2 separate regions of the Homo sapiens genome follow, and region 1 is linked to region 2. Evidence: fine-mapped expression QTL. Tissue or cell type: whole blood. Region 2 holds a variant in brackets; the other region holds the start of a gene. All regions are shown on one strand. Distances are from middle to middle.

What was found. PIP is the estimated chance that this variant, and not a neighbour inherited with it, causes the effect.
Region 1: TEX264 starts here. The variant in region 2 is fine-mapped to the expression of TEX264 in whole blood (INTERVAL, PIP 0.98).

What each region holds. Positions count from the first base shown.
Region 1 is chr3:51,669,686-51,672,427 of GRCh38, reverse strand. It overlaps TEX264 (testis expressed 264, ER-phagy receptor), which reads right to left and starts at 1,176. Exons shown (of 5, transcript NM_015926.6): 1 at 1,140-1,176. It overlaps LOC124906237 (a long non-coding RNA gene), which reads left to right and starts at 1,323. Exons shown (of 2, transcript XR_007095907.1): 1 at 1,323-1,779. RefSeq lists a silencer at 1,011-1,440.
Region 2 is chr3:51,597,082-51,599,581 of GRCh38, reverse strand. All of the region lies in intron 3 of RAD54L2 (RAD54 like 2), which reads right to left. Among named protein-coding and RNA genes, the nearest start is that of RAD54L2, 60 kb to the right of the region's middle. The variant C/TAC (reference allele first, on the strand shown) is at 1,405.

The DNA of each region.
Region 1 (2,742 bases), 73 kb before region 2:
CTGCTCAGAAAACGGCGGGGGGGAAGAAAACCCACCTGGGGGTCTCAGAGCCTTGGTCGGCACGTGGAGAGGTAACGTGAATTTCCCCTATATTCAAGAGAAAAGGAAGAAGGTCTGGGAGCTCACCTGAAATGCCAGGCTCACTTTTAGTAACTGCTGGCATCCAGTGCGGCAGGGGCCGAGCGCTCCAGTGCTGGGAGCTGAAAGAACAGTCACCCCTGCCCAGGAAATAACCACTGAGCCAACCATCATGCCCTGATTACCGTCCTCAGGGAAAGCCTACCGGTCCCTCTAAAGCACCCTCGTCCCATTCTCAAACCCCCTGTGGAAATCAGAAGCCAAACCTAGCTTTACAATGTCAGGTCTCTTCGCTAGAGCTCTGGTCACGCCCCTCTTCCTGGAGTACTCCAATCACACTTGGCGCCCAGAAACTGCCGCTGCCGCTGACCTTGGGCAGACTGCGCCCTCCCTCTAGCCTCGGCTCCCCCTCCGCTCAGAGGCCCGGGATGGACGCGTGCGGCCGGTGCCAGCGAGCCTCAGGGAAGGCTGCGCCCAGCCAGCTTCCTGGTGCCGCTCACGTGCGCGGCGGCGGAGGGCCGGGCCCTTAAACGGCCCCCGTCCTGGGCTAAACTTCGGTGCTAGCAGAGGGCGGAAGGACTATGGAGGGTGGGGGGCCGCCGCCTCCCACTTTCGGATTCCAGCCCCTGCTCACCCCGGGCCTTGCCTATTTACTCAGAGCCTTTCTCTTCGCCCACCTCCTCACGGAGCCCCACGCACGTCTGTAACTTAAAGGACGCTAAAGTTTGCAGCCCAGGCTGCGAGGCGCGGCCTTGGGGGACGGGGGCGGAGTTAAAACGCGACTCGCGCCTCTTTCCCTCACCTCCACGGCCCCGGGGCATGCCCTGCACCGGTGGCCGCGGAAGTGGGCTGCCCGGAAGAGTAGGGGCTGCCCCAAGGTCGCATCCAGGCCCTCGGACCTGGCCGAGGCCAGCTGTGGGCAAGACAAGATGCAAAGAGCGGCCCGGGCCGCGGGGGTCACGGAGGGGACACGGAGAGTCCTGAGGTCGCGCCAGGGCGGACAGGGGGAGTCCCAGACCTACGCCCCAGTGGGTATGCCTCTCCTCTGGCCCGGCCCTCACCTCAGCAGCCGCCCGCTGCGGACGCCGATCCGCGCAGGCGGCTCAGGGTTCGGTTACGGAGCCTGCGCGCGCCCGCCGCGCACGCTCGCTCCGCCCCCTCTCGCGGCGGGACATGGCCGTGGCCGTGGGCGCGTGCGCGCGGGACCCGGAGGGCGGAGGCCTGCCCCGCCCCGTCTCCATGGCAACGGGCGTGTGCCTAGCCCCAGCGCTGGCTGCGGCGGAACCCACGGCGTACCTTCCCGCCTCCAACAAACTATCCGGTTGCTGAGGTTGATTTAGCAACACCCCAGGGCATCTGGGTTGGCAGGAGCACCACAGTGACAGCCTGGCCCAGGCTCGGGTACGGGAGGCAGCCCAGTGGCCCGCAGTAGAGGGCCAGGCTGGGGACCAGGGAGCTGGGGCTGAGGAGAATTTGTACAGCCTAGGGAGGCGCAGCACAGCAGTATCAGCCTCTGGCATTTGTACCACCTTTAGTCCTGCCACTTTCTCTCACTGTGGCTTCGCAACAGACTTGGGAACCAAGAAAGGCATAGGTGAGGAAGCTGAAGCCCAGTCTGGGCTCGCGGAAGAAACTGGTGGATCCAACTTCTGCATAGCGCAAATATCTGCTTCCTGCCTCCACCCACCCATTCCCACTTCCGTGAGTATATTCATCCATCCAACACTTATTATTACTCCTTGCCAGGACAGTTCTAGGGGCTGGGGATAGAGTGAACAAAACCAAGGTTCTGCCCTCCTGGAGTTCACGTTCCATGGGAATGCCCTTCTTCCAGGCTCCTCCCTCAGTGCCCAGGTTGTGGCTGTGGGAGGCTGGTCTACCTTTGTGGTTTAGCGGTAACTTACGTGATTCCCACGTCAAGTGTAAGCTCCTTGATGATTGGTTCAATCTTCACCTCAAATTTCTGAGGACCTACAAACTACAAAGCACTCTTCTAGGGGCCCAAAGATAAAACGCTCCCCTCGTGAAAATCCCGGACTTTTGGTGGGAGGTGGGGAAGGTGACAACTATGCTCATAAGCTTGGCTACAAGACCGGCGAGGCCAAGAGCTACTTTGGTATCCTGACAAGGACTGATGTTTGGGAGGGGGATCCAGCAGATGGGAACACCACGAAGGTGGTGGTGGGAAAAGTCAGCAGTCACAGGGTGGTTCACCTTGTGGATCCCACTACTGCACCAGCAAAGAGCAGGCTGGGCACACAGAGACAGTCAAAATCCCAGCTTCCTTTCCCTCTGCTTCACATTCTTCCTTCCGCAGGCAGGGGAGTTTGAACCTTATCCACAGGGCCAAGCCTGTCCCAGCCCTCTAGGCAAACTGGCAGAACAGGCAGCTGGCCCCTCACAGGCACTCCGGGCTGGGCCAGTGCAGGTCGCAGCAGTTGTTTTACCTATGAACATCAAGCACATGGTCAAACCCTCAGCTTAGGTGCCCCAGGCAGGCGGGCTACACACTTGGTAGCATTTCCTTTGACACAAGGAGCAGCCATGGCCCGGGCTCAGAGACTGACAGCCTCTGCCTGCAGGGTCTGCGTGGTCATTTCTCCTGCTTCTCAGAAGGTGGTGAGCTTTTCCCAGGAAACCATTATAAGGAAGTGCCCATTCTTT
Region 2 (2,500 bases):
GAGACTCTGTCCCAAAAAAAAGAAAAGAAAAGAAAAGCTACTTGGATTATTTTTTTTCACATTTTTCCCACCTTTATTCAGGTTTGATTGTATACTATTTATATAAAACTAATAAAAATCAAGATAATGATCATGTGTCACCCCTGAAAGTTTTTCTTATGCCGCTTTAAAGTCCTTCTCTCCTCTCTCTGCCCCTAATCCTATCCCTAGAAAAGCACTAAGCTGCTTTCTGTCATTAAGGATTGGTTTGTATTTTCTAGACTTTTAATATAAATGGAATCACATGATGTATTCTCTCTTGCTCTCTCACTCTCTTTTGGAAAAACTCTAAAACCATGTTTTTCCTCTGCTCTCACACCACTACAACAACAATCATCACCACAGAAGACTTCTAGTGACCAAATGTGTGGAGATTTCTCCCCACCACCAAGCGACCAATTAATTCTGCAGTAGGTATCAGCTAGGTGTCCTCCAAATCAATTCTAACACTATCTACCTGGAAATTATGTCAGATAGTGTCAGATCCATTTAAGTGCTCAGTCACAAGACTGCCCCCCGACGCACACCAGTTGATAGGCTTCATGTTGGGGTTCCCATGAAGCCCTCTTTGGGTTCAATTAATTTGCTGGAACCACTCACAGAACTCAGAGAAATGTTTACTGGTTTATTATAAAGGATACAGATGAGGAGATGCTAGGGTAAGGGATGGGGGAAGGGGTGCAGAGCTTCCATACCCTCCCTTTGTGTGACACCCTCCAGAAACCTCCGCATGTTCAGCTATCCATAAGCTCTCCAAACTCAGTCCTCTAGGGTTTTTTGTTTGTTGGAGACAGAGTCTCGCTCTGTCACCCAGGCTATAGTGCAGTGGTACAATCTTGGCTCACTGCAGTCTCTGCCCCCTGGGTTCAAGCAATTCTCCTGCCTCAGCCTCCCGAGTAGCTGGGATTACAGGCGTGCACCACCATGCCCAGCTAATTTTTGTATTTTTTAGTAGAGACAGGGTTTCACCATATTGACCAGGCTGGTCTCGAACTCCTGGCCTCAGGTGATCCTCCCTCCTCAGCCTCCCAAAAGTGCTGTGATCCCCAAGTGCTGGGATTACAGGCGTGAGCCACCGCACCCATCCCCTCTAGGATTTTTATGGAAGCTTCATGTCAGTATTACTTCCCCCAGCGTATGAGTGGGACCCTCTCTGGAATGAGGGTCTTATGACCCATAATTAGAAAGGAGGGTTTGGAATTTTAGAGTCCTGCCTTGGGGCAGGTAAAAGGATGGCAGGAGTAGGTCAGAGAGATTCTGTTTCCTGAGGTCTCCCCCTGAGGCCTAACACATGCACCATTATAACAAAAGACTGTAACAAAGACTATGGGAGTTATAAGCCAAATATATATATATATATATATA[C/TAC]ACACACACACACACACACACACACACATATATATATACACACATATATATATATATACACACACACATATATATATATATATCATGGGTATTTTAGGCTTAATACCACATTCTTTCTCATTCTCTCTCTCACTCTCTTGCTCTTTTTCTTTCTCTCTCTCTCAGGAGTTCTGGCTTTCACTCAGCATAATTATTTTGATATTCATTCTTTTTTTTTTTTTTTTGAGACAAAGTCTCGCTCTGTAGCCCAGGCTGGAGTGCAGTGGCGTGATCTCGGCTCACCGCAACCTCCGCCTCCCAGGTTTAAGCGAATCTCCTGCCTCAGCCTCCAGAGTACCTGGGATTACAGGTGAGCACCACTGCATTCTGTCACCCAGGCTGGAGTGCAATGGCACGATCTCGGCTCGCTGCAACCACTGCCTCACGAGTTCAAGCGATCCTCGTTCTTCAGCCTCCCAAGTAGCTGAGACTACAGACATGGGCCACCATACCCAGCTAAGTTTTGTATTTTTAGTAGAGATGGGGTTTCTCCATGTTGGCCAGGCTGGTCTCTAACTCCTGACCTCAGGTGAACCACCTGCCTTGGCCTCCCAAGGTGCTGGAGTTACAGGCATGAGCCACCGCGCCCAGCCAAAATAGCTTATTTCATCTCAAAAAACGTATGTGAATTTTGATTTCTATGTCATAATTTTCATTATTAAAAACATTTAAATTCCTTACCAGTTAAAGTACCGAACCTCCTAACCTTGACACCACTTCACCAATCTTCCAGTAAAACTGACATTCTAACAAGTTTGTCAAGTTCATCCTAAAGCTCCATAAACTCCCAGTTACCCCCAACCACAAATGGAGGAACTAAGTTTGGAAATAAAACTCTTTGGCAAGCAGTCATTCTTAGAATAATCAGTAAGTTACTTATGTCTGTAGTTTCTGACCTGGACTTTGATTTGTTATAAAATTCTTGAGAAAAGCCCTAGGTTTTGTGGGGTTTTTTTTTTTTTTTTTTTTTTTTGAAATGAAGTCTTGCTCTTGTCCCCCAGGCTGGAGTGCAATAGCGCAATCTCGGCTCACTGTAACCTCCGCCTCCTGGGTTCAA